Homo sapiens: one gene and its partners. The protein of the gene in region 1 purifies or fractionates together with the protein of each later gene. This does not show direct contact. Each region holds a gene or a part of one and is shown in the gene's direction. Other genes may lie near its edges.

Region 1 (2,977 bases):
TCATAACTGTAACAGATGGAACTTCCTGCTCTGTTATCGAATGATTAATGCTTAAACCTTGTTAGTTCATTATTCTGTTACAAACTCCCTTAAGAAAGATAACCTATTAAATTAAACCGTTTACTTATCTCTCATTCCTTTCTTGAAAATATATTTTATATTAACAGAAAGTTGAAAGAAAACATCTTATTGCTGTAGGAGGTAGTTGGGGGATGAGAATCCTATTAAACAAAGAAGTTAAAAAGAAGCCTAGGCCAGGTGCCGTGGCTCACGTCTGTAATCCCAGCACTTTGGGAGGCCAAGGCAGGCCGATCACCTGAGGTCAGGAGTTCGAGACCAGCCTGACCAACATGGAGAAACACCGTCTCTACCAGAAATACAAAATTAGCCAGGCGTGGAGGCACATGCCTGTAATCCCAGCTACTTGGGAGGCTGAGGCAGGAGAATTGCTTGAACCCGGGAGGCAGAGGTTGTGGTGAGCCAAGATAGCGCCATTGCACTCCAGCCTGAGCAACAAGAGCAAAACTCCGTCTCAAAAAAAAAAAAAAAAAAAAAGTCTGAAATTTTACATTTTCCTTTTTTCTCTAAAGTAGACAACTTACTCCAAATGTAATCAAATCAGTGGTGGGGTTTTATTGGCACAACTTCAAGAAACTGGGAAAAAAAAAACCCACACAATTTATCATTCAAAGAGAAACAAATCAAGAAACAGAAAAGAATATAGTTAAAACAAAAAAGCCAAAGATTTAGCAAAAAATCAGGAAGAGGACATTGATACAAAGTAATAGAAAAAGAAGATATAAGATACAGTTAACATAAAATCCTATCAAGCATAGGCCTGGTGTGGTGGCTTACGCCTGTAATCCCAGCACATTGGGAGGATGAGGTGGGCGGATCACCAGGTCAAGAGATCGAGACCATCCTGGCTAACACGGTGAAACTCCGTCTCTACTAAAAATACAAAAAATTGGCCAGGTGCAGTGGCACACGCCTGTAGTCCCAGCCACTTGGGAGGCTGAGGCAGGAGAATCGCTTGAACCTGGGAGGCAGAGGTTGCAGTGAGCTGAGATTGTGCCACTGCACTCCAGCCTGGGTGACAGAGCAAGACCCCATCTCAAAAAAAAAAAAAATCCTATCAAGCATAATACTATTAACATTTTGATCTGGTTTTCTTTTTAAATATACGCTTACTCAACCCAGGGTATAGATTACAAAACAAAAATAGAAAATAAAGACATTGGCCAAGCATGGTAGCTCGTGCCTATAATCCTAGCACTTTGGGAGGCCAAGGTGAGAGGCGTGAGCCTCAGGAGTTTGGGACCAGCCTGGGCAACATGATGCAACCCTGTCTCTACAAAAAAATACAGAAGTCAGCCGGGCACAGTGGCTCATACCTGTAATTCTAGCATTTTGTGAGGCCAAGGCGGGTGGATCACTTAAGATCAGGAGTTCAAGACAGCCTGGCCAATATGGTGAAACCCCATCTTTACTAAAAACACAAAAAATTAGCCCGGTGTGGTGGCACGTGCCTGTAATCCCAGTTACTCAGGAGGCTGAGGCAGGAAAATCACTTGAACCTGAGAGGCAGAGGTTGTAGTTAGCTGAGATGGCTCCACTGCACGCTAGCCTGGGCAACAAAGTAAGATTCCCTTTCAAAAAAAATTTAAAAATACAAAGTTAGCCAGGCATCCTGATGCGTACCTGTAGTCCCAGCTACTCGGGAGGCTGAGGTAGGAGGATCACCTCAGTCCAGGGAGGTCAAGGCTGTAGTGAGCCATGATCATGCCACTGCTCTCCAGCCTGGGAGACAGAGTGATATTCTGTCTCAAAAAAAAAAAAAAAAAAGAAAGAAAGAACCTGAAATTGTCCATAATCCTACCACATTAATAAGAGATATAAAAGTAAGGATGTGCCTACTCTCCTCACCTCTCCATCCCAGAAAGGCATTTGATAACTCTGTAGTGACCATCCTTCCAGATGTTTTTCTATTATACAAACATTATATATGTGGAAACTATGGACATATTTCCATGTCAGAGTATGATATTTAGATCATTCAAATTCTTTTTCATGACTGCCTAATAGGTCACTGTATGGATATACTGTAATTTGTCATGTACTAATATTTAACATTCTGAGGCATTTGATTCTGATTTTTTTCTTTTGTTATTCAACGTTTCAATGAACATTTTAAAACCTCTGTCTTTACTCAGTAATTCTACTTTAAAAAAAAATAGATTCCTACAGTGCCAATTTACATTTCTTTTTCTTTTCTTTTTTTTTTTTTTTTTTTTGTTTTTTTTGAGACAGGGTCTTGTTCTGTCACCCAGGCTGGAGTGCAAGGGCGCCATCACAGCTCACTACAGCCTCAAACTCCTAGGCTCAAGTGATTTTCCCGCACAAGGCTAATTTTTATTTTTTATTTTTAGTAGAGATGGGGTTTTGCTATGTTGCCTAGGCTGGTCCTGAAGTCCTGAATTCAAGCTGTCCTCCTGCCTCAGCCTCCCAAAGTGCTGGGATTTCAGGCATAAACCACCTTGCCTGGCTGACTCCCAATTTACATTTTCTTTTCTTTTCTTTTCTTTTCTTTTTTTTTGAGAGTGAGTCTCGCTCTGTCGCCCAGGCTGGAGTGCAGTGGCAGGATCTCGGCTCACTGCAAGCTCCGCCTCCCGGGTTCACGCCATTCTCCTGCCTCAGCCTCCCAAGTAGCTGGGACTACAGGCACCCGCCACCACGCCTGGCTAATTTTTTGTATTTTTAGTAGAGACAGGGTTTCACTGTGTTAGCCAGGATGCTCTCAATCTTCTGACCTCATGATCCACCCGCCTCGGCCTCCCAAAGTGCTAGGATTACAGGCGTGAGCCACCGTGCCCGGCCATTTTTGTGTTTGTTTGTTTGTTTGTTTGTTTGTTTTTTAATAAGGCCTGTCGACTCATACCTAACCAATTTACATTTTAACCAGCTGAATATTCTCTGA
Region 2 (3,500 bases), about 18 Mb from region 1:
GGTGGGGCCAGCCACTGCATCCGACTCCAAGGCTATGGTCTTAACAGTAAGGTAGGACCCTGGTTTTTAGAATTGTTCTGTTCAGACTTTTAAATCCAGTTTTGGGGGTCTGTCTACACACTGTTGCTACTAGGCATGTGGGTCATGCTGGTTTTGTTGCCTGATTGGGCTCCATTGCTTGGCTTTGGTCTAGAGTCATGGACTTCATAGTATTCATGAAATGTAGTCCAAGTCCAAGCACATGATGCTCACTTTCTGAATGTGGTCTATTTTCCAAGGTGTAATCACAGTTTCTGACTCTGCCCTGTAATCTTTTTATTCTCAATTCTAAAACCTATCCTAGTTTTGAGTTCTTTTGCTTAGCTGACTTTGATAGTGTGGCTGATTCAAAAGAATTTTGAACCCATGTACAATTGAGATAACTTCTGTAGCTATTTAGCCATTTTTAGTTTGGCTCTGGTACTTGTTGCACAGGAAATAAACTTGTTGGTTTTGTTTTCGGATGACATTAGATTCGACAGAGACATGCCAACCTAGTCAGTTTAATTGCCCCAATCATCGATGTATTGACCTATCGTTTGTCTGTGATGGTGACAAGGATTGTGTTGATGGATCTGATGAGGTTGGTTGTGGTAAGTGCATTGCCTTCTTTTTTATTCACAATGTTTATTTAGAAAAATCTCAGTGTTAACACATGGACACAGGGAGGGGAACATCACACACCGGGGCCTGTTGGGGGGTGGGGAGCTAGAGAAGGGATGGCATTAGGAGAAATACCTAATGTAGATGATGGGTTGATGGGTGCAGCAAACCACCATGGCACGTGTATACCTATGTAACAAACCTGCATGTTCTGCATATGTACTCCAGAACTTAAAGTATAACAACAAAAAAGAAAAATCTCAGTGTTTAGTCATTTTAGCCCTGAGCTAATTTCTAATGCTTTTCTCTTTCATTCTTAGTATTAAACTGTACTGCTTCTCAATTCAAGTGTGCCAGTGGGGATAAATGTATTGGCGTCACAAATCGTTGTGATGGTGTTTTTGATTGCAGTGACAACTCGGATGAAGCAGGCTGTCGTAAGTAACACATACCCAGAATGTTTCAGACAAAGGGGTCATTTCATTTTTGCCAGTATTGATATTGATATTGCCACACATTTTCCCTAACTCAGACAAACTGGGGGAAAGTATCCTCAAAGGAATGTGGTATTGAACATACAGTAAAATTGAGTAGACATTGCCATATAATGTGTAATTAACAAATCAAGTGGTTGTATAAATGGACACTTCAAATAGTCTCTTAGATGGGCTAAATATTTCTTAGATATTTTTGTTTTCACTTTTAGTTTTTCTTAGGACTTCCCACTTTAGTAGGTTTAAACTTTTGAGGCTCTACTCCATATAAAGATATTTTACTGGTTTCTTTTAAGTTTCAGTAGAGAAGTCATATCATGGTGTAGAAATGGTATGGAGCTGTGTTTAGTATTGACTCTGATGAATTCATTCTTTGTGCTATTATGTGTTGAATATCTGCTAAGATGTTATCTATGGAGATTATAGAAGGCAAGAGACAATTAAGCAAGATAGACAGTTACAAGGGTCTTAGAAATGGCACAGATAAAATTCTATGGAGGTTCAGAGAAAAGAAATTTCTTCTAGTTGGAGGATTCAAGTAGGACTTCATACAGTATAATTCTGATGGATCTATAATCTTCACAGACTGGAAACCTATACTCACATGATTTGTTATTTGCCCACTTTTTGTTTTAAATGGATTTTAGACTTGCAAAAACTCATCAGTGAGTTGATCATTTGTTTGAACAATGGTGTTTTAGACCAAAAAAGTAAGTTTTCATGAATTCTCCTCCTGCGTCAGAAAGGTAGTGTGTAAAGCCATGGATTAAAAAGAAAAGTTAAATAAAATGCTTATATACTTTATAGTTTGCACAACATCTAGAAATTACTAATCACTAATTTTCCTGTTTCACATTAAAAACATAAAATTCTGTGATGAGCTGAGGTTAAACTGTCAATTGCCGCTGGCTTGCTGTTGCCTTGTGAGATCCCTGGTAGAGAGTTTTGGTTTACCCTTGTCAAATAGGGAAGCAGTTCTTACGTATCTCTCCAGGATTGCTTGATGAATAGTGGAAAGTTTGCAAAGAACTGAGTATTTACCATCATCTTTAGTTAGTGTGTGATGGTTTCATTAGGTATAGTTCATCTGAGGGAAAATAATAACACCCAAACATGATATGAAACACATGAAGTTCAAAGTAATCATAGCTATTTAAGCTCTATTGTAATGTTCTGGTGATTCTTTCATAGAAAGATAGATAAACTTTATTATTGAATCTGCAATTGGAAGTACATTAAAAACACAGGAAAAGGAAACAGGATGTTCTTTTGACACAGGTACTCATCTGCTAGTCAGCAGTTGTGCGTTCTGTACTTCGTTTGTTGTCAGAGCCACTAGCTGCCACAAAGAAATATTTCTATGTACTAGAGTGTGGGAGAAGACTCTATATCATTTAGCCTTAAATATTAATTTGGTCATAGTTGTTACTATAAACCTACTATTGGATCCAAAATCATTTCCTCTGAGTCTAGACTATAAAAGGGATCACAAATTACATTCACAAGCCGATTTACCCCATGTTTTCCTTCTAGCAACCAGGCCTCCTGGTATGTGCCACTCAGATGAATTTCAGTGCCAAGAAGATGGTATCTGCATCCCGAACTTCTGGGAATGTGATGGGCATCCAGACTGCCTCTATGGATCTGATGAGCACAATGCCTGTGTCCCCAAGACTTGCCCTTCATCATATTTCCACTGTGACAACGGAAACTGCATCCACAGGGCATGGCTCTGTGATCGGGACAATGACTGCGGGGATATGAGTGATGAGAAGGACTGCCCTACTCAGCCCTTTCGCTGTCCTAGTTGGCAATGGCAGTGTCTTGGCCATAACATCTGTGTGAATCTGAGTGTAGTGTGTGATGGCATCTTTGACTGCCCCAATGGGACAGATGAGTCCCCACTTTGCAGTAAGTTTCCTGACCACAGTTTACTGGCCATAAACTCATTCTGAACAGTAGCCTGGTGTGCATCACCATTGTCACAGTCACTGTGTAGCTTTGTAGGAAGGATTTCAGTTCCTCTATGAGTTCACATCTGTGTAGGGGGTAACCATAATTGAATTCAAATACATCACCATTGGATAATTTTCTGATTAAATCCTTTGTACTTGGTTATGTGTTTTTACTTCTTTTTATGTCTTTGTTTCAAAAAATGAGACTAAATTGAGGCCATTAGATTGTCAAATTAAATTTGGTTCTGTTGGTAATGTGCTCATTAATTTTTCTAACTTTAATATTTTCTAATTTCAATCAGAACTTATCACAAAAAAATGAAGTCCAGGGATTTGTGTTGCTGTGATTAAAGTGCTGTGATTGGCATGTAATCCTAATTACTGTCATTTCTTTCTTTCCTCTTTAATC
Region 3 (3,500 bases), on another chromosome or scaffold:
TTTTTTTTGTCTTCAATAATTTGCATCTTTGTGGGTGGGTTTGGGGATCTCAGTGACCTGAAGGCATTAGACTGCCGCTTTGCTTTTCAGATATGTACACGGTGCAGGGGGTGTGTTTATAGCTGATGAAGTTCAAGTGGGCTTTGGCAGAGTTGGGAAACATTTCTGGAGCTTCCAGATGTATGGTGAAGACTTTGTTCCAGACATCGTCACAATGGGAAAACCGATGGGCAACGGCCACCCGGTGGCATGTGTGGTAACAACCAAAGAAATTGCAGAAGCCTTCAGCAGCTCTGGGATGGAATATTTTAATACGGTACATTTTGGTCTCCAACTTTAATGCTAAGAAGGAAAAATAATGCATGTTCTTATATTTTTTGCCAATGTAGTAAAGAATAAAGCTCAGTATTGCCGGCTAACCACCCAGAACTCTGGCCAAAGTTTTTTCTTATTTTAATAAAACATCTTAAATACTTACATATATATATAAAATTATACTTTAAGTTCTGGGATACATGAGTAGAATGTGCAGGTTTGTTACATAGGTATACATGTGCCATGGTGGTTTGCTGCACCTATCAACCCGTCATCTAGATTTTAAGTCCCACATGCATTAGATATGGCCAAACTTTTATCTAACCAGATTTTATTCTGTCTGACAAAATGCTCCTTGTATTTCTGCTTGTGTATCTTTACCTGTCCTAAAACAGGCTTATTAATTTTTCCAATGATAGATGGTTGCCCTGCTAAATTCTACAGGTTATGATATTTTCATTTCTTTGTTTCATATCATACTTAAATTTCCAAAACACTTTTAAAGTATTTTTATGACTCAGTACTATAAATGTTATACAGCTGTCATAAGAGATACTAAATTTTTATCTTTGGGATATTATATTTTTTTGACTTATCCCCATAAGCTTTAAGCTTGGAAAAATTATTGTAGTTTGTTCAGTATATATAATACGACTTGTTACAGCTAAAAGTAAGATTCAAATCTGAGGACATAAATTGCTTGGGGAAAATGTCATTGCTTAGCTACTTTTACTCAGCTCTTCAAGGGCAGAAACCCCTATTTCCCTCACTGGGCAACACTATGAAATCCTGAACTCCCAACATAATGTCTGCTTTTGTTTGGATGAGCAAATAAAATCACTGGTAGTCCTTCATACCAGTTATGCAGCTTGGATAATATAATTTAGAATGAATTTTCACTCAGTCCTGAATATATAGAATCATGCTCTATTCTAAATATGAGAAACTAATATTATAAGAGAACATTTTATTTAAATTATATCTTCACTTATGTATGTATGAGCCAAATTTCTCATGGATGAGGGAATACCACTCATTCAACTGGTATATTTTCTCATTTGTCTTTTTTTTTTTTACAGTATGGAGGAAATCCAGTATCTTGTGCTGTTGGTTTGGCTGTCCTGGATATAATTGAAAATGAAGACCTTCAAGGAAATGCCAAGAGAGTAGGGAATTATCTCACTGAGTTACTGAAAAAACAGAAGGCTAAACACACTTTGATAGGAGATATTAGGTATGTTCATTATGAAGTTGTCATGTAGTTACTCATTTTTTTCAAAATAATAATAGTTTATAGGCTGGGCAACATGGTGAGACCCCGTCTCTATTAAAACTACAAAAAATTAGCCAGGTGTGGTGGCACACACAAATAGTCCCAGCTACTCGGGAGGCTGAGGCATGAGAATCACTTGAGCCTGGGAGGCAGAGGTTGCAGTGAGCCGAGATTGTGCCACTGCATTCCAGCCTGGGTGATAGGGTGAAATCCCGTCTCTAACAATAATAATAATAGTTTATATTTTATCTTGTAAGTTTATAATAAAGTACATAAAACTAAATCTGGAAAACACCAAAAAAGAGAGATAGCAAAAATTATTCTTATTCCAGAATCCAGATATCACCACTGTTAACATTTGGGTGGGGCCGGATGTGGTGGTTCACATCTGTAATCCCAGCACCTTGGGAGGCAGAGGCAGGAATATTGCTTGAGCCCAGGAGTTTGAGACCAGCCTGGGCAACATAACAAGAAACCTTGTTTCTATAAAATAAATAAATAAACCAACAACAATAAAAAAACATTTGGGTATATGTCTTTCCTGGCTTTTATACTTTTTTAATAAAGTTAGGATAATGTCAGCACCCAAAAGATGAAAAGAAGGAACTTAATGTAGCTCTAAATAATTTATTGAAAATTATTTAAAATGCTATTCTGAAAAGCTGGATATTTTTCATATATATGTATGAAATACTGACATATATATATATAATATATATATATATTATATATATATATATAATATATATATATATATTATATATATATATAATATATATATATATTATATATATATATATAATATATATATATATATTATATATATATATATATATATATAATGTTAACATTTATCATCATTAACATCCTGAGAAACTAAATAGCATGAAAGGGTTGTTTTTAAGCCATTTTCTTTTATAATTGAGAAAAGAAAACTGGATGACAAAAACTAATTTATTTCCAAAAGTAGAAACAACTGTGAACATAGATTGGTATCTTGATTTAGTTAGAATTAAACTTGGAAATTAAATGGAAGTTTGGTGATAGTGTTAACTTTTTGTGACAGTGAAGAGTTGGACAGATTGTGGGTCAAGTTTTTCTTCACCTCTCGCAGGGGCATTGGCCTTTTTATTGGAATTGATTTAGTGAAGGACCATCTGAAAAGGACCCCTGCCACAGCTGAAGCTCAGCACATCATCTACAAGTAATTCACCCCCACACCCACCTGTTTGGTATCTTGGCTGCAGGATGCCTACCCACTTGAAAGCTTGCTTGACTTCCTCCCATCCCTCTGAAAAAGGAAAGTTTAAATACATCCTATTTATAATGTGGGCTTCTTAAATGCAGAATACTTAAACTGCTCTATGTTCACATAATTCTTCAGTAATCGTAGTTATCCTTTGCATACACTCACATGTATTTCCTACACAAATTAGGATGAAAGAAAAACGAGTGCTTCTCAGTGCCGATGGACCTCATAGAAATGTACTTAAAATAAAACCACCTATGTGCTTCACTGAAGAAGATGCAAAGTTCATGGTGGACCAACTTGATAGGATTCTAACAGGTGGGTCCATGGATCTTTAAGATGTCTTCTTGTTCCCTCTCCCAAACCCACCCCTCAAACCCTGGTCTAGTCATAATGAGCATATGCATCTTGTTATTCATGATGGAAGTGAGGCAGGGCAGAAATAAATGTGTAACTTTCCATTTAGGACTAGAAAAAGATAGCTGAAAAGTAACTACATGGACTCTTAAATTGAAATTTTCAGTTTGTATTCATATAACTCCAAATATAAGTTTTTGCTGAAAGAACATAGTTTTGTCATTTATTTTTACTTTAGACTAGCATATTTAAAAGTGCATGTCTGCATTGTGCCATGGACCACAAATACTACAGTATATAGTATTT
Region 4 (4,233 bases), on another chromosome or scaffold:
CGAAACAAGAAAAAAAAGGAGATTTTCTTCTTCTACCAAGGGCAAAGCATACTGCAATTTAAATTTTGGAAATATTTAATATGAAAAGCAAACAATTCAGGAAGATATGTTGAGTTCTCAGCTGGATAGGAGTTATTTTTTGAGCTTCATTATTATTTCACTTAACACATTTTTAACTGGGTAATCATTTTCTAGGCCATACAAGACACAAACAATTTGAAGAGATTTATCCGACAGGCAGAAATGAATCATTATGCTTTGTTTAAATGTTACATGTTCCTAAAGAACTGTGGTAGTGGAGATATACTTTTGAAGATTGTTAAAGTGGAACATGAAGAAATGCCTGAAGCCAAAAATGTGATAGCTGTCCTTGAAGAATTCATGAAAGAAGCTCTTGACCAAAGTTTTTGATCATATGTTTTGAGATAATTGTATGATCAAGTTGTATATTTAAGTCTTAGTGTTTGAAATTGCAGTTATAATTGTTCATAGGATTGCTATTTAAGATGATTTGAAACTCAATCCAGATTTTCTTTTTGTATTTTACCAATTTAACTTAAATAAAAATCTGAAGAACATCTTCACTGAGTCCTAGATAGATAATGTATGTGAGAGTTGTGAAATTTTAGTGTCTCACTGGCCCCATAAATTCCACGCTTCAGGAAGTTGTTGCTTAAAAAATTTCAGAGATGATTTTGTTTGTGGCTTTTCTCAGGAAAAGCCTGAGTTTGCTGCAGTATTTAGCAACTTTTCTTCTCAGAAAAACCATAATACTTCCTTTTCAGTGGACTGTAGCTTCTTAAAAAAAAAAATGTAATTCTAGTCTTAGAACAGATTAATACCACTACACCAGTTCAGAGATAGATCTGTGCATCCTGTGGGTGCTTGATACATTTTTTTGTCTAGTTGATAACGGCATGGATGATAAAGTCAGATTTTAAGTCAATATGCAAATCCTGAGTATGTAGAAAATTAAATGAGCTTTACAAATCGATGCACTAGCTTCAAGATAAAATATTATCTTTGAGCTGGGCGCAGTGGCTCAAGCCTGTAATCCCAGCACTTTGGGAGGCTGAGGCGGGCAGATCATGAGGTCAGGAGATCGAGACCATCCTGGCTAACACAGTGAAAGCCCGTCTCTACTAAAATACAAAAAATTAGCCGGGCATGGTGGCGGGCGCCTGTAGTCCCAGCTACTCTGGAGGCTGAGGCAGGAGAGTGGCGTGAACCCAGGAGGTGGAGCTTGCAGTGAGCCGAGATCGCGCCACTGCACTCCAGCCTGGGCGACAGAGCGAGACTCTGTCTCAAAAAAAAAAATAATTATCTCTGAGAGAAAGCTACTGCAGAAATCGCCTTCAGTCACCATTTCATTTATTTGTTCACAGGTATTTATGAAGAGCCTGTGTTTTCTTTTAGGTGAAAATGCTGGAGTTTTAAAACAGTGTTGAGAAAAGAAACAAAGTACATACAGTTTACAAGCAAACTGTAACATAAGGAATGCAAACAGTTTCTTCCTATTAGAGTTACTCATTGATTTTAGTTTTTTGTACATTTGTTACAAGCCTCAGATTGTTTTACTCTGAATCAATTGAAAGTGCCCTCAGCTAGCCATTTACAATTCCCATGGAAGCCTATGTAGCTACATACATACAATTGCAATTTGCTCGGGATAGCTCTTTAATAAATTCATTTGATAATGATTTTTGCTTAGAAGAACAGAAGTCTTGTGTTCTCACTTCCCTGAGGATGCTCAGAGGAGCACAAACCCATAAAACTGAGGAATCCTCTCTTAAATGGATCTAAATTCACATTAAGTGCTGAGTTTTAACTTTCAAAATGACTGACAATGGCCTTCTGCTTTCTCCTCTACATAAGCCTCGGGACATGACTCACATTTCTTTTCTTTTAATGAGAAATACAATTCAGAATCTTCATAAATGCTTTCATACGGTTTTAAACTTTAATAACTTGGAATGTAGGCAGTATAGAAAAAAATCTAAGTAGCATTTTTCATAGTATTAAAGTGAGAGTGGCTGGGCACGATGGCTCATGCCTGTAATCCCAGCACTTTGAGAGGCCGAGGCAGGTGGATCACCTGAGGTCAGGAGTTCCAGACCAGCCTGACCAATATGGTGAAACCCTGTCTCTACTAAAATTACAAAAATTAGCTGGGAACTGTGGCATGTGCCTGTAGTCCCAGCTACTTGGGAGGCTGAGGCAGGAGAATCGCTTGAACCCGGGAGGCAGAGATTGCGGTGAGCCGAGATCGCGCCACTGCATTCCAACCTGAGTGACAGAGCGAGACTCTGTCTCAAAAAAATAAAGTCAGGGTGACTAAGGAAAACCAGCAATTTTATGACACTGTCCTTGAATCTGACTGTCTTTTCCCAATGTAGTTGGTTCCCCACTTGGAAATCATTTTTTAAAGTAAGCTACATTAGCACATCAACGTTTTAAGTCTGAAAAAATACTTCATTTTCAAATTCATGTCATTCAAGAGTCTATGTTGTAAATGGCATTTAAAAGCAAATGTGTTACCTGCTTCAAATCATTTATGGATATAGGCAAGGTGTAATTACATATTCTCTGTGTGGTTGTATATATTTTTGTAATGTAGGCTCACTACATTACACAGCTCTATATGATAGTCTTATTTTATCTTTTTTTTTTTTTAATGAAATGGGGTCTCACTATGTTGCTCAGACTGGTCTTAAACTCTTGGACTCAAGCAATCCTCCCACCTTGGCCTCCCAAACTGAGCCACTGCACCCGGCCTCTGGTAGTCTTATTTTAAAAAAAGTAAGTCTGGGCTGGGTGTGGTGGCTCATGCCTGTAATCCCAGCACTTTGGGAGGCCTAGGCGGGCAGATCATGAGGTCAGGAGATCGAGACCATCCTGGCTAACACGGTGAAACCCCGTCTCTACTAAAAGTACAAAAAATTAGCCGGGCGTGGTGGCAGGCGTCTGTAGTTCCAGCTACTCGGGAGGCTGAGGCAGGAGAATGGCGTGAACCCGGGAGGCGGAGCTTGCAGTGAGTCGAGATCACACCACTGCACTCAAGCCTGGGCGACAGAGCGAGACTCCGTCTCAAAAAAAAAAAAAAAGTCTGACAAACTCTGTATCACTACTGTAGACAAGGAAAATGGTGTCATGGAACTGAATATCTTGGTCATGAGAAGAAACCACAGAGTTCATGACTAGAAACATGTACTGTATTCAAATTTTAATAAGCTACTATCTTGGCTTTTAAAGTTGTTTTTTTTTTTGTTTTTGTTTTATTTTTTAAGACAGAATCTCGCTCTGTCACCCAGGCTGGAGTGTGGTGGTGCAATCTTGGCTCACTGCAACCTCTGCCTCCCAGGTTCAAGTGATTCTCCTTCCTCAGCCTCCCCAGTAGCTGGGACTACAGGCATGTGCCACCATGCATGGCTAATTTTTTGTATTTTTAGTAGAGACGGGGTTTCACCGTGTTAGCCAGGATGGTCTCGATCTTCTCACCTTGTGATCCACCCGCCTTGGCCTCCCAAAGTGCCGGGATTACAGGCGTGAGCCACTGTGCCCAGCCAGCTTTTAAAGTTTTAAAAAGGATTTGTTCAGACATGGAATATATTTGTGTATATTACTTGTGTGCTGTACACACAGAGGAAATGTATGTTTGTCATGTATGAAGAATGGCTTCAGTTTCTCTGTAATTAATTTGTAATTATAATAATAAAACTTAGCTTCTCATCAAGACAGTTGTTTTTGTTTAATGAGCTCAGTCCTCAAGCCTAACATTTGTATTCCCAACAAGGTTGTGAGGAAATTATACTTGCTATACTAAGGAATTTGTTGAAGAAGATCAAATCACTTGCTGGGATACACACCTTTCTGCTTCTTGCAGGAGGCATCAAGCAGAATCTAAGAGCAATTTCCCTCACAATGTTTTATTCATTGTCCAGTAGAGTTATACTCATAGAACTCAATAACCCAAGTTACTTCCTTTCACTCTCATTCATTATTCACCATGACAGAATGCCTGTCCTCTACCAGAGGATCCCTTAGACCAGGTGCCAGGAAAGCCTGCGGGCTTCTTGGAAATAAGATGCAGTTACTAGGACCACACTTTCCTAACAGTGTGTCTTCTCACTTAATGGAAACCCTGCTGACTTCAATGAAGTCTTTCCACTTGGAGGTCTGAGAGGGCAGTCCAGTTCTCTTAATTGCTAAAGTTCCTAAATGTGGCTGGATGTG

What was found. Proteins that work in one complex are often made in the same cells at the same time.
Region 2: the proteins of TNFAIP6 (region 1) and LRP2 purify together in Homo sapiens (affinity purification with mass spectrometry; one large-scale study listed by BioGRID and IntAct). This does not show direct contact.
Region 3: the proteins of TNFAIP6 (region 1) and ETNPPL purify together in Homo sapiens (affinity purification with mass spectrometry; one large-scale study listed by BioGRID and IntAct). This does not show direct contact.
Region 4: the proteins of TNFAIP6 (region 1) and C17orf75 purify together in Homo sapiens (affinity purification with mass spectrometry; one large-scale study listed by BioGRID and IntAct). This does not show direct contact.

Annotation. Positions count from the first base shown.
Region 1 is NC_000002.12:151,374,592-151,377,568, forward strand, and holds part of TNFAIP6 (tumor necrosis factor-inducible gene 6 protein precursor), read left to right. Parts: intron 1-2,977. UniProt on the Homo sapiens protein: Major regulator of extracellular matrix organization during tissue remodeling. Catalyzes the transfer of a heavy chain (HC) from inter-alpha-inhibitor (I-alpha-I) complex to hyaluronan.
Region 2 is NC_000002.12:169,240,535-169,244,034, reverse strand, and holds part of LRP2 (low-density lipoprotein receptor-related protein 2 precursor), read left to right. Parts: intron 1-512; coding exon 513-632; intron 633-962; coding exon 963-1,079; intron 1,080-2,669; coding exon 2,670-3,047; intron 3,048-3,500. UniProt on the Homo sapiens protein: Multiligand endocytic receptor. Acts together with CUBN to mediate endocytosis of high-density lipoproteins. Mediates receptor-mediated uptake of polybasic drugs such as aprotinin, aminoglycosides and polymyxin B.
Region 3 is NC_000004.12:108,746,054-108,749,553, reverse strand, and holds part of ETNPPL (ethanolamine-phosphate phospho-lyase), read left to right. Parts: intron 1-90; coding exon 91-316; intron 317-1,394; coding exon 1,395-1,549; intron 1,550-2,702; coding exon 2,703-2,792; intron 2,793-3,024; coding exon 3,025-3,155; intron 3,156-3,500. UniProt on the Homo sapiens protein: Catalyzes the pyridoxal-phosphate-dependent breakdown of phosphoethanolamine, converting it to ammonia, inorganic phosphate and acetaldehyde.
Region 4 is NC_000017.11:32,327,941-32,332,173, reverse strand, and holds the end of C17orf75 (protein Njmu-R1), read left to right. Parts: intron 1-195; coding exon 196-411; 3' UTR 412-3,733; downstream 3,734-4,233. UniProt on the Homo sapiens protein: As component of the WDR11 complex acts together with TBC1D23 to facilitate the golgin-mediated capture of vesicles generated using AP-1. May have a role in spermatogenesis.